Regions from separate parts of the Homo sapiens genome. Here regions 1 and 2 are each linked to region 3. The links come from fine-mapping of genetic effects on gene expression. A gene starts in region 3. Each other region holds a variant in brackets. All regions are shown on one strand. Distances are from middle to middle. Region 1 has its middle 48 kb from the start of LINC01516. Region 2 overlaps ENKUR (enkurin, TRPC channel interacting protein). Region 3 holds the start of THNSL1 (threonine synthase like 1).

Region 1 (8,185 bases), 49 kb before region 3:
TAGTTTATTTATCTTTGATTTTCTTTGAGACCTGGTGTTGCCAGTTTAACCATTCCATTGAACAGGGGACTAAACAGCAGTTAGTGACAGGTAGTCACTACTCACTAGGTTTCAGCATTTATTAGCTGGTGAAAGCAAGACTTAGTGAGCAGGCACAGAAACTCTCATTCACCTGTTGATGTCTAGTCCTGCTCTCTGATCCTGGACACTCTGGTAAGCACCTTGCACTGAAAATGCACATAAAAATGTACACTGCAATGGAATGCCACCATATTTTAAAGACAGGACAACAGAGTCCTACATACAGTATGAAAGGGGGGATGTAGGGGCCTCAGGAAGCATGGGGCTCTGTACCTGTAGTTTGTCTATGGGAGTATTGTCTTTGGCTTGCTGCATTCTTAAACCTTGTTCCAGCTGGGGTGGTGGGAAGCACACTCTTTCCAGTCAAAATCATCCCTTGAAAGCTACCATTCCACCAGGGAAATTTTTACTTCCACCATCTCTTATGCTAATGAACACACCGTTTGTGGGGTAGATTTCAATAACAATATTTGAAGTGCTAAGTAACCCCCTCCTAAGTGTGGATCCCTAATTAGGATGTTTCAAATGCTAACTAACAACTCTTGGAACGTGGATGTCTGATTAGGGTACTTCAAATACCTCCTCCTTCCTCCCTCCTCCTAGGGTGTCGATTGCACGAAAGTATTTTAAAGTAAATCAGCACAGAGATGATGTCATCCCTACATAGGACTTGCTAGTGAAAACAAGAGAAAAAAGTGTCCCTTTGTGTGCGTGAGATACTCGTCACAAGGACAAGTAGAGACAAGCTTGGAGTGATGTGGCCCCAGTCATTTCCTCTTCCCGAATGGGTATGCAGATGATGAGTTAGTAAAGCATGAGTCTCTGTATCCCTTTGTCTGAAAACCCACATGACACATGCTGGCTCTACAAACACCACCATTATCCCTCATGACTTTTCCATAGCTGAGCAGTGCTGACGTAGAGGAGTCAAGGCGCAGACAGGCTGCCACCCTGAAAAATAAGAGCACTACCCGAAACAAAGGCCCCGGGTAGCATCATGATTTTATGTGGCTGGGCTTGAGACAGATGGCACATTCACTGGGCTCTGATTGGGAAAGGGTACTTATTCTGGGCTAAAGAGAAGACCCTGCCACCCTGGGCAAGCTGATGGAGCCAGGATGCCTCCCCCTGAGTGAGATGTGGCCTGTCTGTATTTTGTTTAAGTGTGACACCTTCAACTCAACATCACACTTCTGGGATAGCACAGAATCACTGAGGACCCTTAGGTGTCCCATGAAAGCTCTGGACCCAATATGCAGAAAAAAGAAAAAACGAAGAGCACATACGCATATACATACTTTTGTACATAATTACATAATTTCAGGAGGATTATGAACTCCCTCATCCCTTTCTAAAATATATTTTTTTGGAAATAGAGTCTCGCTCTCTTGTCCAGGCTGGAGTGCAATGACACAATCTTGGCTCACTGCAACCTCCGCCTATGGGTTCAAGTGATTCTCCTGCCTTAACCTCCAGAATAGCTGGAACTACAGGCGCTCGCCACCATGCCCAGCTAATTTTTGTATTTTTGTTAGTAGAGACAGGGTTTTACCATGTTGGCCAGGGTGGTCTTGAACTCCCGACCTCAAGTGATCTGCTTGCTTCAGCCTCCCAAAGTGCTGGGATTACAGGCATGAGCCACCATGCCTGGAGCTTTCTAAAATATTATGTGCCTTTCAGTGCAATCTAAAATTATTTTTTTTTAGGGCAAAATATTGCAATAAAATAAATAAATTTTTCATAATGTCAATTCATTTCAAATTGGATTTTAGCTTAAAATAAAGAATTTTCTGGTCTTGGGAATGTCCAACAGTGGCCTAAATGGTCCTGATTTCCTTTGTTACTGAACCAACCTTGGGTCCACGCACTGGGCTCTGCAAAGCCAATACTCACATCAGGATTGCAGCAAGAGAAAGTGGGAGATTTATTGCAGGATGCCCAGGAAGGAGAATTGACAGCATGTGGTTAAGATGTGAATTCCCTGACAGTTTACAGGTAAGGGACTTCAAAGGTGGGGAGCCAGAGGTGACAAGCAAAGCCATAAATCAATACATGAAGGCGACATATTGGTTTGACCTAAAAAGGGGGAACATCTCAAAGCAGGTATGCTGGGGTAGATTAGAAGATATTTTATTTTACTTTGAGACGAGTTTCACTCTTTTTGCCCAGACTGGAGTACAATGATGCGATCTTGGCTCACTGCAACCTCTGCCTCCTGGGTTCAAGTGAGTCTCCTACCTCAGCCTCCCAAGTAGCTGGGATAACAGAAGCACACCACCATGCCTGGCCACTTTTGTATTTTTAGTAGAAACGGGGTTTCACCATGTTGGCCAGGCTGGTCTCGAACTCCTGACCTCAGGTGATCCACCACCTCGGTCTCCCAAAGTGCTGGGATTACAGGCATGAGCCACCACGCCCGGCCAGATTAGAAGATTTTCTGATTTGAGATTGGTTAAGGAGCTGAAGCTTTCTCTAAAAATTTGGGGCCAGCAGAAAAGAATGTTAGCTCTGGCTCGTGGGTGTGACCTCCTCCAGGACCCCAGGAAGAAATTTAGATAAAGAATGGCGGTCAGAGTTCAGTCCTCAGCTTCCCCTTCTCTGAGGTCTACATTCTAGCAGATGGTATTTTCCATTCGGTGGCGTCTGGGTTTCTGAAAAACAGCTCAGGGACGCATGTTAAGATGTCGTCTTTAGTTTCTATAGTTTCTATAGTCACAAAACATTTTGTGACTCTAACTTCCTTGGTGATTGTTTTAAGCTATTACCTTTTTAAATGTTTTGTATTTTTTTTCATGATGTCTTCTGACAGAGGGTTGATATAATCTTTTTTTAAAAATTTTGAGTTCCCAGGTACATGTGCAGGATGTTCAGGTTTACATACTCAGCAAATCTTCTCGATTATAAAGTTCCTCATCTACTTCTCAAGGCTAGCTAGGTTCCTGGAACTTCCCTTGAATGAACTCTAAATTTTTCTTTCTTTCCATGCTTGGGAAGATTGTTGGGGTGACTGGCAGGCCCCTATGGGGGGTCCCTGCTCTGTCTAACCTTGTTCCTGGTAATGTTTGGCTGAGGTTGTTGCTGCCTGGCAAGGATGTTAAGGAAGAGATTCCTATACAGGGTGGGGACTGAAGAAGATGCCCTGCACATGGGCCTTTCAACTCTAAGAATCTATGAGCTTCCACTTTCAGGCACCCTTACAACCCCAGGGAAGGAGCGTGCTGGAGAATCTTCTGGAGTCATGACTCCATCTCCCCACGGGTGGGTCAAACTTTCTCTGAGGGTTAGGTCTGTACATTAGGATCAATTCCAACATCAAGTTCAGTAGCCTCTTCCTGTGGAGAGTAGAGTAGGGACTTGTGGATGGAACTCAAGGGCAGAGAGCAGAACAAGGGCCTAGGGATCAAATTTCTTCCAGGACTAAGAAGACACAGATGCAAAACTAGGGGCAGTTGAGATTTCAAGCAGAAGTACAGTTTTCCTGTGGAATTTGTTTCCTCCTTACTACCTGTATTAGTCTGTTTCTGTGTTACTATGAAGAAATATCTGAGATGGGGTAATTTATAAAGAAAAGAGGTTTAATTGGCTCACGGTCCTGCAGGCTGCACAGGAAGCATAACAGCTTCTGCTTCTGGGAAGGCCTCAGGAAGCTTCCAATAATGGTGGAAGGCAAAGGAGGAGTAAGTGTCCTACATGGAGGGAGCAGGAGTGAGAGAGGTGGGAGGGGCCACACACTTTAAGATCACCAAATCTCACGAGAACTCACTCACTGTTGCAAGGACAGTACCAAGGAGGATGGTGCTAAAGCATTCATGACAAATTCACCCCATGAGCCAGTCACCTCCCACCAGGCCCAAACTTCAACACTGGGGATTACAATTCAACATGAGATTTGGGTGGGGACACAGATGCAAACCACATCACCGCCTCCTATACAAATCCCCAGCCCCAGACAGAGAGGAAGTCAGTGTAAAACGATTCTTACTTGAAGAATGAAAGGGCCAGGCACGGTGGCTAATGGCTGTAATCCCAGCACTTTCGGAGGCCGAGGCGGATGGATCACCTGAGGTCAGGAGTTCAAGGCCAAATGGTAAAACCCCATCTCTACTAAAAATACAAAAATTAGCCAGGTGTGGTGACAGCTGCCAGTAATCCCAGCTACTTGGGAGGCTGAGTCATGAGAATTGCTTGAACTCGGGAGGCAGAGGTTGCAGTGAGCCATGATTGCACCACTGCACACCAGCCTGGGTGACAGAGTGAGACACTGTCTCAAAAAGTAAAATAAAATAAAAATAAATCAAATATAATGGTAGCCTTCAGTGATTTTTTAAAAAAAAAAAA[G/AG]TCCCTTCTTTGGAGCTCTGTTTCTTTGGTCATCCTCTCTTTATCCTGGCAAAATTTTACCCTTCCCTCCTTCTTTGGGAGTTAGGAGAGGTTGCAACCAGTTATCTGGGCCACTCCTTCTATTTCTCTCCCTATGACAGCCTAGTCTAGTCCCTGTAGCCTAGTCTAGTCCCTGTAGCCTCCTGGCTGAACTACAACAAGAATCTCTTAACCATTCTCTGCCTCTGTTTCATCCTTCCCACTGAGTTTCCTTCATGCCATTCCATCTTGCCCCGTGAATCAACACCTCAATCTGAATTAAGAGCAATGATGGGTGCAGTGGCTCATACCTGTCATCCCAGCACTTTGGGAGGCTGTGCTGGGAGGATCTCTTGAGCCCAGGAGTTCGAGACCAGCCTAGCAACACAGGGAGACCCCTTATCTCTACAAAAATAAAAAATAAAGTTCAAAAAAACTTAAAAATAAAGTGTTCTTAACTGCAAGTACTGATTTTCAGTCAAGCTGTTTCGAACATGAACAAGTTCATATAGAAAGAGCCAGGGAAATGACAAGCAGGAATTTCTTTATTTGAAAACATTGAGTGATTCTCCCCTTGCCACCACAGGTCTACCATTGGTGATTCACATGTTCTCATTTCAGCCATGTTCTCTTTTGGACGAGGCTTTGTGGTCTACAGGAGTGGAGTCTATGTCTTCTACCCCTTTTGAATCCTCCACTTCATTTCTTATAAAGCTGAGCACTGAGACAGGTACTTTATAAAATCTTATTGACACACGCACGGTGGCTGAGGAAATCAGCTACTCTTTCAATGGCGGTGTACCCTTCAAACAATAATCAGTGTTCTTGAAGGCCGGTGACAAGACCACTCCAACCACCAAATATATGGCAAGAATCTTTCTGGGAAGAGCAAATAGATTTTGAGGGGGCTTGAAGATGGAAAACACTCCAGAGTTACAGACTTTGCTCTCAAACCATCTGCGCACGTCCGACCTATTGAGCCGGTGTCACTTGTCCCTTGCAGAGTGTGCCTGCCTCATTCCACAATCTGCCCATGAACATTTAGTGAGTGTCTGTTATTGGCAGCTCCTGGTTAGGTAAAGTGGGAACAAAGATGGACACGGGAGAGCCCCGGTCCTCAAGTAGTCCAAATCTGCTGGCAACTGGGACACATCAGAGCAACTATGACTCAATTTAGTAATTGTCTACAGAGTGTGGTTTTGCACAAAGGGCTTCTCAATTGCAAGGGGGAACAGGAGAAAGTCTCAAAGGGGAGAAAATATTTGAATGGGGCTTTGATGCACAAGGAAGACTAAACCAATACAGATTTGAGGGAGGAGCATTATAAGCACAGGGAATGACAAGTAAAAACACAGGAGCCAGGCATGCTGGCTCACACCTGTGATCCCATTGCTGTGGGAGGCTGAGATGGGAGGATGGCTTGAAGTCAGGAGTTTGAGACCAGCCTAGGCAACATAGTGAGACCGCATCTCTACAAAAAATTTTTTAAGTACTTAGTCAGGCATGGTGAACACACCTGTAGTTCCAGCTATTCAGGAGGCTGAGGCAAGAGGATTTCTTGAGTCCAGGAGTTTGAGACTGCAGTGAGCTATGATGATGCCACTACACTCCAGCCTGGGCAGCAGAGTGAGACTCTTAAAAAAAAAAAAGACCAGACACAGTGGCTCATGCCTGTAATCCCAGCACTTTGGGAGGCTGAGGCAGGAAGATCACAAGGTCAGGAGATCGAGACCATTCTGGCCAACGTGGTGAAACCCATCTCTACTAAAATACAAAAAAAATAGCCAGGTGTGGTGGCGCACATCTGTAGTCCCAGCTCCTTGGGAGGCTGAGCCAGGAGAATAGCTTGAACCCGGGAGGCGGAGGTTGCAGTGAGCCAAGATTGCGCCACTGCACTCCAGCCTGGGCAACAGAGCAAGACTCCATCTGAAAAAAAAAAAAAACAAAAAAAAAAACCACAAAAAAACACAGAGGAGTGAGAAGCAAGTGCCTGTGGTGCAGGGGTGGAGCATGCAGTGGGAAGGGGAGGGAGGTGATGTGCAGGGGGATTTCCTTTCCTGGCCCTGCCTTTCCTGTCATTTTCGGGCAGCCCAGGTGACCAGGCCCTCTTCCACCACTGTGTGAGTCACCACCTATCTCCTCCACCCAGGCCTGAGTGTGGCTGATCAAGGTACGTGCTGTTACTAACACGTTCCTCCGAACACAGCGTCAACAATTAGTAATGAATGAGGCCAGACCCGCTGTGTCACCAGCTGCCGGAAAGCCAGCTCCAGAGGTGCCATCAGCCCAGCTCATGGCCAGGGCTTCCTTCCCAGCCATGCCTGCAGACAGGCTCCTGCTCCAGGAAATAGGACCACATTCTTAGGAGGGACACACAGAGGGGAAAAACAGAAAGAAAAACTGCAGGAGGAGGCTGACCCGAGGCTGCCCAGACAGGGAGTGGCTGTGAAAAAGTCCAAGGTTTTCCTCAAACATTCCACAATCGTCTATAGACACTGAAAAGCAGGCATGTTTAACTTTTTCTCTCCCTTAAGAGAGGAACACTGGTGGAAAAGTGACAAGAGAGCAACAAGTCCTACTTGCTCAAGAAGAGAATGACTCAATACGCAGGATTAGGCTTATAGGTAAGCAAGGAAGGAGTCGCTCCAAACAATGTCATGTGTGGGGTTCCAGGGAAATTTCTGTACAAAACCACATTAAATATGAGGTCATCAAGCTGTTAGAAATGTCGAGATCCTGCTTTTAGACTGTGTAAAGTGACTAGTAAATGGCAGTTAGCTAGTAGTCGTTATCGTTACGTTATTTCTCTGTGCAAATACCCCCAAGAGTCTCAGCCAGTTGCACACTTTTGCAGTCTGACTCAGCAAATACATATTGGGTGCCTTCCATGTGCCAGTAACTATCCTACATATAAAGAACATAGCAGTGAATCGCTGGGGTTTCTAACGCAGTCATTGATGATGCAGCAGTCACGCCTCAGACTAACTTCTCAGACTGAAGAGACAGAGATGAAGGGAGAGAAGAATGTGCAGGCCTAGGTCTGGGGAAGGTGGGAAGTGCCTCCAGCTGCTGGAAGTCACCCACTACTGGGATGTCAGGTGGAGAAGGGCAGCTTGTAGGTTGGAGAGAGATGAAGAAAGGGGTTGTTGGAAAATCTGAAGAGAAACATGTTGATTTTCCGATTTTGTTTGAGACTGGGTTTAGCCATAGCCAGCATTTGGAAAATCACCTAGCTGCTCTGGTTATCCTGCTCAAAGGAAAAGTCACCCAAAGCTTGTAGATCACCAAAGTTTTTTCCTTTTTTTCCTGAAAATAGAAATGGTGGTGGCGGGGGAGAACAGTAGGCTCAGGCAATGAGGAGCAGAAGGAGGAAGAGATTCAGTTTGTGTTGGGAGGTTCCACCTTGCCATCTGTGCACTGTTACTCCTCCTTCCAGAGCCCATGAAGCAAAATGGAACAGAAGGAGCTGCACCCAACAGAGCAGGCGGCTGGAGGAGCGGCACAAGAAAGCCTGGGATAAAGTTGATTTTCCATATCTGGATGTGTCTGGCAGCATCAACCATATAGCTGCAAACCAGGGTCGATTTCAAAGCCCAGGGCCTGGCCACACGTGTCCAACACCTATGAACTTCTTATGGAGATTGTTCACCACGGAGCATGAAGACAGAGCGGGTGACTGGAGGTGGCTCCCCAGGTAATACTGACATTCTTGTGTTCACAGGTTTTGCATCTGGGCAGCCAGCCTAAT
Region 2 (8,185 bases), 29 kb after region 3:
CAAGAGATTTTTGTGCCTCAGCCACCCGAATAGCTGGGACTACTGGCACATGCCACGATGCCTGGCTAATTTCTGTATTTTTAGTAGAGACGGGGTTTCACCATGTTGGCCAGGCTGGTCTCGAACTCCTGACCTCAAGTGATCCACCCCCCCACCCCTCAGCCTCCCAAAGTGCTGGGATTACAGGTGTGAGCCACTATGCCTGGGCAATAACAACTCCATTTTAAAAGGCAGGAATCTACTAGCTCTCAATGGAGGGAAAAAAGTCACTGAATTTTGTCAATTTACAGGGTTTTGAACAAAGGATTTAGTCTGTACCATTTCTTTTTCTTCCATCATCAGTTGATACGTACCCATATGTAAGATTGCATACAAAATATTGATTACTTTTTTCTGCAAAATCTTTTTAGGATTATGGTGTCACACCTGAATACATATGTAAGCGAAACGAGGAAATAAAGAAAGCCCAAGAAGACTATGATCGTTATATCCAGGAAAACCTTAAGAAAGCAGCTATGAAAAGGCTCTCCGATGAAGAAAGGGAGGCAGTTTTGCAGGTGTGTGTTCTGCCATTTACATTCATCTGTAACTCTTTGGATCATCTCTGAAAGAAAGGTGTACCATCACTTTGATGATTAAAGTCAGCACTTGGATTTTGAAATCAGAACAATCTCTTTGGGTTACAGTTAAAAACTACATACAGCAAAGCTGACTCTTTGGAGAGAGCAAAAAGTTGTGATATAGGGATTCATTTAATAATATTTTATTTCCAATTTGGTGAACTGTTTTTTTCCTGAACTAGTGTTGTAAGGAAGCCTACCTTCCTCTACAACGAACATGCATGAAATGAAGCAAATAAAGCATTTTTATTTTCATTTTTATGCCCCTGAGTTTGTGAAAAATAATATTCATAAATTAGATATTTTTCACTAGATGGAGCTCTAGAATAATTGAAACTGTCCTTAAAACAACTTTTTTTCCTTTCCTATAAGGCAAATGTCCAAAATTTTAAATAAACAGGTGCTAGGTTTCACATATGTTTTTCTTGTTTTTAATTACATAGACTTAAAGATATATTTATATTGGATTTTTTAATGCAGGGCTTTTATCTGAAGCATTTAAAATATTAGGGGGTGTAAGAGTTTCTGCTTCATCATTTGTATGAGCGTTTAATTAAACACCTCTTTGTACTTTTTATAGTCATACTGTCTCTTATAGAGGCAGAAATAATACTTAATTCTTTGTTTATTTTTCATTTTGAAAGCATCCCACGAAGCCATTTCTAGTTTATTATTAATCTCTGTTGAAAAATGGATTCATATGCTGTTACAACTTCTGAACATTTTATCAATGTCATCATAATCATCAATAAACATTTCTTAAATGCTAAACCCTGAGGATATTTTAAAAGGCATAAGATTTTTTAAAATATCTGCAGTGGAGTATTGTGCAATTTAATTAGTGAGAGGTACTATGGATCTATGTACATGTATAGATGTGAATATGTGTATGTGTGCAGCTCTTAAGTTTCATAAGGTTCCAAGGCACTAGTCACCCCTGGAGGATTGTAGATCGTTAGCTGGGCCTGAAAATGTAGAGTGACGGCATGTCCCAGACAGTAGGAGTGGCTCAAAGGCAAGGACGGTGTCTCTTTGCTGACAGCAGCATCCCCAGTGCCTAGCACAGTGCCCAGTGAAAACGCAGATGTTCAGAAATGGTCTGCTGCAAAGGAGGAAGGCAGACAGGCAGGAAGGAAGGCTGGCAGACATGGAAGTGAGAATTGGCATGTCATTTTCAGGGAGAGTTCTCGTCTGTGGCCCATTCTGTCTCTCTCATTTGGATTTTCCCATTTTCAGAAAGTACGTGCCTTTGTGAAAGCCAGGTTTTTACACCTAAATGATGCTGAAAAATAAGAATATGACAAAGAACTTAGAAGTGACAGGTCCTTCCCTTCTGTGTCTTTTTGGCTGTAGGAGATAAGCAGCCCTCAGCTTCCCATTACGGTCGCTACAGAGTTACCCTTTGATGTGATGATAGCAAATCATCCACTGGACGCCTTATGAGCCAGGGAGCAGAGCTGCCATAGTAACAAAGCCACCGGCTGGCCTCCTGACGAGCCCTGAGCCACACTTCCTTCCCTAGGCAAGAGTTGCATGTAGTTCGATGACAATCTGGTTGTATGTCCCTGAGTAAGCCACATTCTGCTCATTCTTCATAAAATAACAGTCTCATTATACCTGGACAGGATCATCTGGTCTAGTGATTCCAAACTTCTCATTTTTAAAATGAGGAATATATATATATATATATATATATATATATATATATATATATATATATATATATATATATATACATATGCTGTGTCACTCTACATTTTCAGGCCAGCTAAAGATCTATAATCCTCCAGTGGTGACTAGTGCATTGGAACCTTATGAAACTGAGGAGCTGCACACAGACACACATTCATATCTCTACATGTACATAGATCCGTAGTTCCTCTCACCAATTAAATTGCAAAATTCTCTATTTATACGTATTTTATATATAAATAAATTATATATAACATATGTACAATATAAAAAATAAATTTTACTTATATATAAATATATATACACATATATAAATATATACACATATATACATATATAAATATATATACACATATATAAATATATATATACACATATATAAATATATATACACACATATAAATATATATACATATATAAATATATATACACATATATATAAATATATATATACACATATATATATATATATACATTTTTTTTTGAGATGAAGTCTTGCTCTGTCACCCAGGCTGAAGTGCAGTGGCATGATCTTGGCTCATTGCAACCTCCACCTCTCAAGTTCAAATGATTCTCATGCCTCAGCCTCCCGAGTAGCTGAAACTACAGGCATGCACCACCACGCCCACCTAATTTTTTTGTATTTTTTAGTAAAGATGGGGTTTCGCTGTGTTGCCCAGGCTGGTCTTAAACTCCTGGCCTCAGGTGATCCACCCGCCTTGGCTTCCCAAAGTGCTAGGATTACAGGCGTGAGCCAATCTGCCCAGCCGTTAATACAAATACATTGTGGGCCCCTTTGTTCATTCATTTATTTATTGAATATCTAGTGTGTTCCAGCCAGAGGGATACTGTACAGAGCAAAATAAACACAGTCCTCAGTGTCAGTGAACTTAGAGTTTGATTTTCATTTCTCTTTGGTCACAAAACTATCAAGTACATCAATAGGGACTAAAACTCATTTACCAATTGCCAGGCTGGTGTTTCCCCCACTACAGAACACATACTTGCAGAGGAGGTAACAAAGGGAGGCTACTTCAGTCAGGGCTCCAGCAGGAAATCGAAGGCACACTCAGCTAGGACTTGGAAGAGAATTTATGTTTGTTTATTTTATGTATTTATTTGAGACAGTCTTGCTCTGTTGCCTAGGCTGGAGTGCAGTGGCACAATCACGGCTCACTGCTAGCTGGGATACCACCATGCCTGGCTGATTTTTTTTTATTTCATTTTTTTATTTTTAGAGAGGGAGTCTGACTATGTTGCCCAGGCTGGTCTCAAATTCCTGGCCTCAAGCAATCCTCCTCCCTCAGCCTCTCAAAGTGTTGGGATTGCAGGCATGAGCAGTGGCCACTGAAGAGAATTTATGAAGGAATTATTGACAGAAGTGAAGTAGGGTTAAGGGAACCAACAAGAAGCACTGAGGCACCCCAGGAGCAGGGACAGTAGGAATTTACCACCACCTACGCTTGAAAGGCAGCAGGCACAAGAAGCAGTGTTGTCAGAATCCAGTGAGAGCTGGAGCTGGGCTGAGGGTCATAGTCACAGATGAATGCAGCTAGAA[C/T]CCATGTCTAGACTGTCCTAGGAGAGGAGGAGAAATGCCCCAACCTCACTCTCCACCCTCCAGGGCCTTCTGTGGCTGAACTCAGGCCAGAGGGCGAAAGAGCTGGGAGCACCCCACAAGGTGGAGAATGTTTGGGGGTGGGCGAGGGTGCAAAAGGAGCATGAAACTGAAAACTTCTTATTATAAGATCACTTCTCCCTGTCTGAATTTTTTCCAAAATGAACGATATTATTTCAGCTTTAAAATAGAAGAGAGGAAAATTAAGAATTAACAATAAGGGAAAATCACTATTGCTGCAACACATGAAGTATCTTTTTAGATGAAATAATGAAAAAACCTCTTAAAGTCAGCACGTAGCGTATTTCAATATAATATGAAATATTAGCTACATTTAGTTTCCATCCCTGGCTGTTGACTTTGATCCAAACGTTATTGTACACACTGGAAGATAAAAGCAAACTATCCTTTAAAAGAAAATACAGAGAAAAACTGTAGCTGCTGTGACTGCAAGTAATATGGAAACATCACCCAACTAGCTATGAAAAACCTTTGATATCCGCAAATGTACAAATACATAGACTTCCTCTCTGCAATAGCCACTCCTGTGGAGCACTGTGGGAACCTCTTTCACATTTCATAATGAAAGGCTGTGGAGAAATAGAATTCTTTTGAGGGCTTCTTTTTGGAATACATCGCATACACTGTCAAGAACTGTGTAGCCTCCTCTTTTTAAAATTTAACCTGGATACTTTTTCTTCTATCCTTTCCCTTTCCCAGATCCTTAGCTCACTCAAGAAGGCCTCATAATTTGTTGCCCTTTTCCCCAACCAACCTCTTCTATACAGTGTGCCCTGACCTGTCATCATCCCTTTTATCTAAGCATGGAAATAAATCAGTGAAATTGTATTGTCCCTGAAAGTTTCTACAAGATTAAATTTGTACAAGAGCTTACTATGACAGCATAATTATATAAGACACTTGTAATCCTCTTTTACACCTAAATGTATGGCCATAGTTTTCAAAGACCATGTTTTCAAGGCAGTATTTTAAGTTTTGGAGTTTTGGTTTTGTTTTTGTTTTCAGGCAGGGTCTCTGCTCTGTTGTTTCAGGCTGGAGTGCAGTGGCGCAATCATCGCTCACTGCAGCCTCAACCTCCTGAGCTCAGGTGATCCTCCCACCTCAGCCTCTCAGGTAGCTGGGACTACAGGCCCATGCTACCACACCTGGCTATTTTTTGTATTTTTTGTAGCGACAGGGTTTTGCCATGTTGCCCACACTGGTCTCGAACTCCTGGGCTCAAGCAATTCACCTGTCAAGGCAGTATCTTAAATTGCACTTTCTGTTTTGCTTTTGTGTAAATAAAATAATCTATGTGCCCATAATGAATAATTAAAAAGTGTTGACTTATAAAATTTCATTGAATTAATTTAATTACTAGTTTAAGACCATTTTGTCTGTGGAGCCCATAGGGCACTGTGATAAAAAAATGATAATTATGCAGAAACAGAAATAACTTTTATTGCTCCTAAGAGATCCCTAATTTTGAATTTGTTGATTTCTGAGAATAGAAACTGTTAGCTACATTATTGAATTAGCATGTGTGTTACATTTAATGACCTTTCAATCATTTATAGAATACATTAATGGGAACTGTAGATCCCTTGACTATATGGAGGGCAATTGGTTCTTTCTAATATATTGAAAGGACACTTAGAAGATCATCTTTTGTACAAGTGAATTTTGGCAATTTTACAATCCCATTTGTTAGATATAAGAAAATATAGCCATCCACATCAGAATTAGGTCTTTTATGTGATTTGTCTGTTGAAGAATGAGGATAAAAAATAAAATTTTACAAAACAATTTTCTGTTCAAAAATGTTTTTGACTCGAGGATATCATTCTAAGTTGTTTTTTACCCATGCATTTGCTGTGAGCTTTAGCTTCACACTACTCATAACTCTGCGTGTACATTTTTGATGGTAAAAACAAGTACAGTAACAACAAAAGCAGAGCAAACAAATACTCCCAGTGGGAACTGAGCACACAGTCAAGGATGGGATTTGGCCTCTGTACAGTATTTTTGGTTACCGTGGCCAAGTACTTGATAAATACATTTCATTTTAGAAGTTATTTTTGTCAGTTTCTTTTACTTATTGACATTTTTCATTACCAATTAGCTTTTCCCATTTCCTTTACTTTTGCAGTTTGCTTTGGTATTTACAAGTTTCTTGACCATTTGCAGGGGCTGAAAAAGAACTGGGAAGAGGTGCATAAAGAATTCCAGTCCCTCTCGGTCTTTATAGATTCTATACCAAAGAAGATCCGCAAGCAGAGGCTGGAAGAAGAAATGAAACAACTAGAACACGACATTGGCATAATTGAAAAGCACAAGATTATTTATATTGCCAATAAGTAAGAATGGATCTTTAAAGTATAACAATTTCAATGTAGGGGAAAAAAACATGGAAAATATAAAAAACTCCAAGTTTTTCAAAAAGGAAAATACTATGAAGAGAATAAAAATAGTCTTAATCAGAATGCTTAGGCAATATGCAAAGAATAATTGAGTTATTCACTTACACAAGAAGAAATTTTGTTTTTACTAGTGTCACGTTTTCCACATATAAACTATTAAATTTGAGAATATGTGTTCCAGTTCCACAATGTAATTCATTATTATTATGTACTTGTTTCACATAAACATTAATTTCTAGGTCCTGAAAAATAAAGTCAGCACTCAGAACTTCACTTTTTTTTTTTTTTTTCTGCAGCGCATGATACCAACAGCACAACTTTGAAAACTGTTAAGTATTTTGAACTGGAAATAGTAACACGTGCCTTCTTGCTACTCTAAACTGTCTCCAACACATTGTTTCTGAGCTCCACAAATGCAAAAGATGTATTTTCCTGTGGCCCATGACATTTGCAGTTATTCCCAGTGAGAAATATTTTCAGTATTCGTAACACTGTATATGATGAAAGGCTTCTATTTGGAGGAAGAAAAATTAAGAAGACAACTTACAAAATCAAGATGACAACTTATAAAGGCATCATTGAGGATGATTAAGGAGAATAGCCTCCTTTCTAGCATACCAACCTCGATACTCTTATTTTATTCCACAACTCACTATGCATATCTTATTTAAATGTTTTTTTCCTTTTGGTCCTTTCTACTTATCTATTTTGTGAATTCTAAAGTTACATTTGTAAGATTACATAATCTATTAAGCAATAAGTTTATGTTAGTAGAGCTGTTTTCAACCCAAAAATAAGAAAAAATAGCTCTAAATATCTAAAAGGAAAAGGTTATTTTATGAAATTTTAAATTAGAAAAATTTGGTAAAATATATGCAACTATAAAATATCAGAGAAATAACAATTTCTACTGCTTACACTGGTTTTTATCCTCTGGACAACATAAAAAACAAAATATGGGAGTCTTTCAGGCTTTTTTCACAAACACAGAATTTGGAAGCCTTATAGAAAAGCTTATTTTGGTTACTTAAAGAAAAGTAGTTTATATACAATTATTTTTTGAAAATTCACTTGAAACTTGTCCATATGAGTATCTTTATTCCTTTATTAACTTAGGGCAGATATAAAATAAAGGATAATATATGACAAATTCTCACTTACCAAGAATGGTTGGTTGCTATTTAGGGTAGGCTAACAGCTGTGACAGTACACTCCAAAATGTATAATTACGTAAACACATATTCAATTCTTGCTAACATAGCAGTACTTTGCTGTGAGCAGGTCAGCAGGAACCCTTTTCTGCAGTCACTCAGGGACCCAGACTTACAGAGTGGGTAGGATGCATCTGATCCAGAGTTAGGGAGAGGCACGTACAGGCCAGGCCTAGAAATGATGCATATCATTCCCGTTTGCATCGCTAAGTAAGCAACTTAAGTTGCTTTAACAAACTAACTCCAAATCTCAGTTTCCTGATAAAGATACATTTTTCATTTACATCACTGTGCAATGTGACTAAGGGTAGGGGTATAAGTCTGTTCCATGCAGTCACTCAGGGACCCAGTCTCCTTTTGTCTGGTGACTCTGTTGATCCAGGCAGTCTTTCTCTGCCAATTCAGGATGAGATGTTTAGGTAAGTATTTTATTTGTGAAATGATTGCTATACATACTCATTTTTAAATAATTCAAAATCAGTAGCAATGCAAAAATATTCTGATTACTTTAGCCTTATGGATATTATGCTTTGAAGTCATGAGTGGGAGTTGCCTTAAATGTTAAAATGAAAACTTTGTGGTTTTAACAGCTAATTCTTTTGCTTTCTGTAAATGTCTACTAAAGAA
Region 3 (8,185 bases):
GCAGTTAAGTGCTATAATATATATTATTTCTAAAGAACAATAAAGATATATTCTATTTTAAGCTACATACTAAATTTTATTTTGTAACATTTAACCACAAATTGATTTTAGGGGCTCAACATTTTTTAACCAACCAAATGAGGAAAAGACATCCTCATTTCTTTTTTGAGAACGTCTGCTGCAATGGCCACTCGGGAATATACATAGAAGGCATATATATGGACTTCACCAAAGCATTACACATGGTTCATTTAAAATTTTTTTAATTCACGGAGAAATGGAAAAAAAAGATTTGAGGATATTGTTGAATGATCATAAAAATGGTTCTGTTGAATAGAGGGAAATTTCTGGTAGTGCACTCCAAGGCTTTTGGTCTTGACACTCTTCTCTTTCATGTGTTTAACAATTATTTGGATTAAGCATTGAGAGGGATATTGGATAATTAGCAGTTAATAGGACTGACTTTAGAGTGAGAAAAATCTGCAGATGTGCAAGTCCTTTATATAAAATGGTGTAGTATTTGCATATAACCTGTGCACATCCTCCTGTATACCTTAATCTCTGAATAACTTATAATACATAATACAATGCAAATGCTAGGTACAGAGCTGTTGTACTAATTTGCTTTTTTGTTTGTGGTATTTTTACTGTTCCATTATTTTCGTGTTTTTGTTTGTTTTTCAGACAGGCTCCCACTCTGTTGCCCAGGCAGGAGTGCAGTGGCACAATCTTGGCTCACTACAGCCTTGACTTCCTAGGCTCAAGCAATCCTCCCACCTCAGCCTCCCAAGTAGCTGGGACTAAAGGCACGCACCACCACACCCAGCTAATTTTAGTATTTTTAGTAGAGAGGGGGTTTCGCCATGTTGCCCAGGCTGGTCTCCAACTCCTGGGCTCAAGCAGTCTTCCTGCCTTGGCCTTCAAAAAGTGCTTGGATTGCAGGTATGAGCCACTGTGCCCAACTAAAATTTTAAAATATTTTCAATCTGTAATTAGTTGAATCTGAGAATGGGAAATTCACAGATATGGAGAACTAACTGTGTATCAGGACACAAACTAGCCAAAAGGAGGTTAAGCTCTACTGCTTCTGACTTCTGACCAAAAATTCTCTCAAACTTTTCATTCAGAGGGCCTCCCACTTGCCATGAAACAGAGGTGAGGGTGGAAGGACCACACAATCCAGTATAGTTCTGTAATCACAAGGATCTCACAACTAAAACAATTTTGCAAGTTCATCACTTAGTCTTTATATTACTATCAAAGCTGACTAAGCTTTTTCTGCCGTTAGACTTCTGCTGTTAGACATATTCTTAACGATCTCGAATATTTAATTGAAAACTTTAGTATCCACAATTCTATAACTTTGAGAATTATAAAGAACCTGTCTTTATAAAGGGTTTATTTACCTTCCAATTGTCTTATATACTCATCTACACCCATTTTATTCATTTAAATAGATTAAAATAATCCTTCGCAAAAAAAAAAAAAAAAAAAACAACTCTCATTTGTTTATGTACATCACAGGCATACCATTATATACGGGGATCTAGGATCTGTGCAAACTACAATCCACAGGCTAAATCTGGCCCACCATCATTTTCATAAATCAAGTTTCTTTGAAGCACAACTTCAGTCATTCATGTGCTCACATATTTGTTCAGTACCGTCTTTGGCTGCTTTTGAGCTACAATGGCAAAACTGAGTAGTTGCAACATAACCACTTGGCCTAAAAAGGCCTGAAATATTTACTGTCTACCCCTTTATAGACAGTTTGTTCATCCCTGTAGGTATATACCAGTTAATTCCCTGTGGACATGCGGTGGACACAGGCATTTTTTTGAAGTGTCATTTCAAGAGCATTATAAAAACTAGAAATAATTTTGCTTAAACACACTTTCAAAAGGCAAGGAGAATTGCAGATCAAATGTCTAAGAAAAAAGAAAAGTTTTTTTCCAAATGATTTAACAACCTGCTCATGGCTGTAAACTAACTATACCACAGTGAGGTCTTGCACAAATTGTTTAGCATTTTTTAAAGCATAATAAATATACAGACATCAGTGAAATTATTTTATTTCAGTAACCCCAGAACATCAAGGCTACCAAAGGCCAGTTGGTGCTAACTGCAGAAATCATGTTTTGCCCTTACTTGCTATTTCAGGAACTGATTAACACAAATAGTCTCAAGGTGTTCCTTCTAATTAGAAAATTCATAAGCTTTAGCCAGTGACTATCCACTTGGCTAATGGCGTTATCATTCCATGAGTCCTTGGTTCGAATCTTCGTACATACAGGAGGTTTCCCGCCAAATTTTTTCTCTATACTTGCTAAACAGAAATCCCAAACATAAAATACTCAAGGGCGAAAAGAAAGGGGCAAAGTGATATAGATTTGGATCTAGATCTAAATATAGATCTACAGATCCATCTATCTAAAATGTTTTGGAAGACAATCTGATGTGAAGAAATCTGGAGAATTTTCCCTAAGCGTCTGGGACAAAAATTAAAATCAACTGTATACAAAAAAAAAAAAAAGAAAAACTTAACGTATTCTTATGTAGTGAAATTCAGTAAGAGCCCAAAGTAAGGACCTACACATTCAGTAAAGCCTTTTTATACAGGAACTAAAAGGTTCACCAGGCCATTGTGTTGTTTTAATCACTCCGCCAGCCAACCAGGCAGTGAGAAACCCAGACTCAAGTGTGTTTTCTCTCCTCTCCGGGAAGCTTTATTTCCTTCGGGCAGAGTGGCCTCTGTACCGGTGGTTCAGAGGCATCCATCTTCCTCCCCAAATCCTATTACCAAAATGTCTTTTAAACACTCGGGTAAAAGCGTCTAAATGACTTTCCTACGGCAGGCCCATGTGCATAGATTTACGGGTGACCAGGTGGAACAAAAAGGAATAAAACCGCTTCTCAGAAGACAATTTTCCAACAAGGGACACCAAAAACTGGACAAAAACGTAAAGGCCCACTTAAAAGGCTTCTCCTCTTAGTTTAGGCTGCTCATTTACAAAGAGCAGGTCCACTGGTTCCTGGAGAACGACCTAGAGGAAGAGTCCCGACCCGGGGAAGAGCAGGCGCAGAGCCGACCCGGAGGACCGCCCAAGGGGCGGTCCCGGGAGCAGGGGCGGGAGGGCGAGCGCAGCAGGCGGAGGAGGCCGCGGGCCCCGTGCGCGCACTCACACACGTGGCGGGCAGGGCTGCGCGGCGTTCCGAGGAGCCTCGACCAGAAGCAGCAGGAAAAATGCGCGCAGAGTTGAGATGACCAGCGAGTAGCGGAAAGGGGAAGGGACGGTACGGGGAAAGGCATGCGATGGGAGCGGGCTGGCTTCTAGTTTTCCTTCCTTTCTCCTCCAATAACTCACCAAGGAAATCTCACTGAGAAGACGGGGGAAATGAAAGGAAATGGGGGAGCAGTGTCCACGAGCCGCTAAAGCCTCCACAGGAGACGGAGCACCGTACCTGCAGCTAGCTCCCCGGTCCCGCCCCCGCGCAGTGGACTCTGCGCCTGTGCCTGCGGCGGCCAGCGTGCCTCCGCTCCACGCCCTTCCCCGAGCGGCCTCGCGCAGGGCACGTGACTCTCCTTTCTCACTGTAGCCTATCCGAGCACTCCGATCTCCTCAGGCTCCTCCCCTCCCTCGTCTCCCTGGCGGCGCTGGCCTTGCGTCCTCGTGGTCTCAGCCGCTCGCTCCGCCCACACCGCGATTGGGGCCTGCTCACAAAAACCTTATTGGGTGACGCCTGCGCACCAGCTGCGCTTTGCCGTCTCTACTAGGATTTTTCTTTTTTCCCCAGATACACAGAAATAGAAAAGAGCACAGTTTTTAAGGGGACATCATTTTCACCCCGTTAACTTTCAAAGGCACGTAAAAACAGTGGCTTCCAAATGAGCTTCTCTAGCAGAAGGCGCTGCAGAAAGAGGGAAGAGGGGAGACCTAGTTTGCGGTGCTGCCTGCCACTTCCTCGTTGCCTAGTAACGGTTTCCACGGCAACCGCACAGTCAACGACGCTTAGCAATCCGGAGAGAAATAGGGTGTTTTCTTCCCGAGAGAGGACTGCTAAGAGGGGGTTAAAGGGGGACGATGTGAAGGAGAGAACCTGTGGTCCTTCAGAAGGCGAAGAAGAAAGAAAGGGGAAGCAGTGAAGAAAGGGACGGAGATACTGGGACAGGGAGAAAAAAGTTGTGGAGAGTAGCTTTTAAGGAGTCATTTGGTGGCCATGGATCCAACGTGCTCTTCTGAGTGCATTTATAACCTCATACCCAGTGACTTGAAGGAGCCTCCCCAGCCTCCTAGGTATGTGGATAAGCAAAGACTATCACTTGAAACAAGAATGGGGAATACTCAGTATTAATTAAGCATACATATACTGGAATTTTTAATAATAAATAAAATGTATTTTTGCCTCGATGAAGTAGCCTTGGAGGATAACTTGTTAGAGAAAAGGTCGAAATATCTAGGTATTCAGCATCTCACAGTTTTACAGAGAGGGCAGTCTGGCGCTGTGAGATGACCATTTTATTATATTACACTTAACCTCTTATTAATACGGTATGTGATTATTGTGTAATTTAATTATATGTGATATACAGCATAGTATGAAGTTTCATGTTGAAAAGAAAAAAATCACAATTCTATTATCTTGTTTAAGGATACTTGATGTTTGGTTTCAGGAGTTCGGTGTTGTATTTCTAACTGCACTACTCCCTCTCTAATGGGATAGGATAGGACTTTTCCCCCAAGATTTTTATGAAATATAAATTTACATTTGCTTTTGAGCCTCAGGTTTTTGATCAGTGAAACGAAATATCTACCACTATTAGGCAGTTTCTAAGGACTTTTTCAGATCTAATGGTTTAAATGGAAGGAAGAATTGGTGGATAGATAATGAACCAAAAAATATGTAATTGAGTTGAAATTTTACATAGGTCTTAGAACCTCTTAAATTCTCCAAATCTCAAAAACGTGCAAAGGAAGCACTTCAGTTACTCCCATCTGTAGGGACTTCTTAGAACTTACTTAAATCTGTGGGGAGCAAAGAAAGTAGTGGAGAAAATCTCATTTCTCCTAGGACTTGAAATGTTTCCTGTCTTTTACCATCATCCTTGTCCGTATGCAAGTCAAAACCACATTTGAAAAGGACTGGACTAAAAATCGGGCCTAGCAATTAATTGTCTTTGTGAACTTTAGAATAAAGTTTCATTTGTTTACTGATCTGTGAGATAAATGTACCAGATAATATCCAAGGCCCCTTTTAGATCTAATGGTCAATTATTTTTACTAGTATTAGGGTAATAGCTTCAACAAGTAGGCAGCTTCTTCAATTTTAAGTATCTGGTTTAAATTAGAGCAGTAACTGTATTACATCTCCATTAGCATATCAACATCTAGAGACTGGAAAGAGGAATGTAAAGTAAGTTATGGCACAGTTGCAGAATTTATTTTCAAATTTTCTATTGTTGCACCAACTTTTGGTTTCAAATTCCTGCATATTACATGAGATAAAACTCCTCTATAACAGATTGGTAGATTGTATTTCTATAGAATATTGAATTTGAGAGTTATTTTATTAGGTAGGTATTCTGTTCTTTGGCAAATTAAAAAGCTTTACTGCATCTAGACGATTTTTTTTTTCAAAAAAAATTTATAGGAACAGTCTTTATTCATTTGGCAAGCATTAATGGAGCCCCTATTATGTGTATAATATTGCACTAGTATATCTGTTCTTGGTGCTGTTGGAGTGATAGCACAGACTTCTTGGTTTTACTATGAAGAAATGAGTAGAAGAAAGATTTATGATTAGAGGAAATAGAGGCACCCAAATGTGATGCCAAAAGAATCATTTCTGTTAGGTTAAAGTCAATTTACACTGGCAAGATTCTGACAACTGCCTGGCTTTTGATCTCCCACGCCTCAGAGTTTACCGTCTTTTTGGGGAACTGAAATATGAACACTAAAATTTATCATTGAAAACCATAATGAGAGATGAAGATACTAAATGAGAACTTAGAAGATGAATGTATGTGACCAAAATCGGATGAAAGGCACTTTTCTGCAGTTGAACTATTGGCTGAGACTTAAGTTATGAAAGCCTCAGAGTCAATGGGAAGTCATGATTCAGTTTTCAAAATTTGAGTTACTCATGATGCATAAGATGGTTTCCAAGATTTTCACCAAATCTGTCACCCTTTTTTTTTTAATTACTTTTTTTTCAAGACGGAGTTTCACTCTTTTTGCCCAGGCTGGAGTGCAATGGCGCCATCTTGGCTCACTGCAGCTTCTGCCTCCTGGGTTCAAGCGATTCTCCTGCCTCAGCCTCCCGAGTAGCTGGGATTACAGGTCCCTGCTACCATGCCTGGCTAATTTTGTATTTTTAGTAGGGATGGGGTTTCACCATGGTGGCCAGGCTGGTCTTGACCTCCTGACCTCCAGTAATCCACCCACCTCTGCCTCCCAAAGTGCTATGATTATAGGCGTGAGCCACCACGCCTGGCCTATCACCCTTTATTGATGTCTGCAGTTATTGAATATCTCCAGTCATCCCCTCTTTCCATTTTGTTTAAAGCAATATTCCAGTTATGGTCTGAACAGTCCATGAAACCATTATCTCCTTTCCATAATTCTTGGCACAATATTTTCATCCATTCAGCCTAAGCTTCCATAAGCATTTTGACAGTCATGTCCAACTATTGGCTCACACTAAAATACCCTGTATGGATTTTGACTAAGGTTGGTCTCTCCCATCCTCTAATTATGTAGCTGATTCTTTTTTATCTCAACTCATTAATCTATGGAGATAGTTTTGCATTTGAATCTTTTATACATTCTGTTAACCATTCTTTTTGTGTCATTTGCAAATTTAATAAATATGTCTTTTATATCTCTTATCTATCATAGAACATAGTATATTAGTCTGTTCTCACGCTGCTAATAAAGACATACTCGAGACTGGGTAATTTATATTTCAAAAGAAGTTTAATTGACTCACAGTTTCACATGGCTGAGGAAGCCTTACAATCATGGCAGAAGGCAAAGGCGGAGCAAAGTCACATCTTACATGGTGGCAGGAAAGAGAGTGTGTGCAGGGGAACTCCCCTTTATAAAACCATCAGATCTCATGAGACTTATTCACTATCATGAGAGCAGCACAGGAAAGACCCACTCCCATGATTCAATTACCTATCACCAGATCCCTCCCATGACATATGGGAATTATGGGATCTCATCAATTTAATGTGAGATTTGCGTGGGGATGCAGCCAAACCATATCATTCTACCCCAGCCCCTCCCAGATCTCATGTCCTCACATTTCAAAACCAATCATACCTTCCCAACAGTCCCCCAAAGTCTTAACTCATTTCAGCATTAACTCAGAAGTCCACAGTTCAAAGTCTCATTTGAGACCAGGCAAGTCCCTTCTGCCTACAAGCATATAAAATCAAAAGCAAGTTAGGTACTTCCCAGATACAATGGGGGTCCAGGCATTGGGTAAATATAACCATTCGAAATAGCAGAAATTGGCCAAAACAAAGGGGCTATAGGCCCCTTGCAAGTCCAGATTCTAATAGGGCAGTCATTAAACCTTAAAGTTCCAAAATGATCTCCTTTGACTCCATGTCTCACATCCAGGTCACGCTGATGCAAGAGGTGGGATCCTATGGTCTTGGGCAGCTCTGTCCCTGTGACCTGGCACAGTACAGCCCCCATTCCGGCTGCTTTCATGGGTGGGCATTGAGTGTCTGCAGCTTTTCTGGGTGCATGGTGCATGCTCTCAGTGGATTTACCATTCTGAGGTCTGGAGAACAGTGGCCCTCTTCTCACAGCTCCACTAGGCAGTGCCCCAGTGGGAATTCTGTGTGGGGGGCTCCCACCCCATATTTCCCTTCCACACTGCCCTAGCAGAGGTTCTCCATGAGGGCTCTGCCCCGAAGCACATCTTTGCCTAGACATCCAGACATTTTGATACAACCTTTGAAATCTAGGTGGAGGTTCCCAAACCTCAATTCTTGACTTCTGTGCACCCGTAGTCCCAACACCATGTGGAAGCCACCAAGGCTTGGGGCTCGCACCCTCTGAAGCAATGGCCTGAGCTCTACGTTGTCCCCTTTTAGCCATGGCTGTGACTCAGGGCACCAAGTCCCAAGATTGCACAAAGCAGCAAGGCCCTGGGCCCAGCCCATGAAACC

The links.
Region 1: its variant is fine-mapped to the expression of THNSL1 in lymphoblastoid cells (TwinsUK, PIP 0.95).
Region 2: its variant is fine-mapped to the expression of THNSL1 in esophagus mucosa (GTEx, PIP 0.92).

Annotation. Positions count from the first base shown.
Region 1 is chr10:25,061,058-25,069,242 of GRCh38, reverse strand. It overlaps a transcript of ENKUR not described here. Among named protein-coding and RNA genes, the nearest start is that of LINC01516, 48 kb to the left of the region's middle. RefSeq lists enhancers at 372-930, 114-1,313, 931-1,490, 6,327-7,526, 8,118-8,185. The variant G/AG (reference allele first, on the strand shown) is at 4,420.
Region 2 is chr10:24,982,835-24,991,019 of GRCh38, reverse strand. It overlaps ENKUR (enkurin, TRPC channel interacting protein), which reads left to right. Exons shown (of 6, transcript NM_145010.4): 4 at 411-557; 5 at 6,115-6,284; 6 at 6,644-8,185. The coding sequence ends at 6,650. It also overlaps a transcript of THNSL1 not described here. Among named protein-coding and RNA genes, the nearest start is that of ENKUR, 29 kb to the left of the region's middle. The variant C/T (reference allele first, on the strand shown) is at 3,871.
Region 3 is chr10:25,011,970-25,020,154 of GRCh38, reverse strand. It overlaps THNSL1 (threonine synthase like 1), which reads right to left and starts at 3,543. Exons shown (of 3, transcript NM_024838.5): 1 at 3,463-3,543. ENKUR (enkurin, TRPC channel interacting protein) reads left to right here and starts at 3,997. Exons shown (of 6, transcript NM_145010.4): 1 at 3,997-4,295. The coding sequence starts at 4,219. RefSeq lists enhancers at 2,822-2,901, 3,501-3,795, 3,106-3,868 and silencers at 3,152-3,231, 3,412-3,611, 3,942-3,991.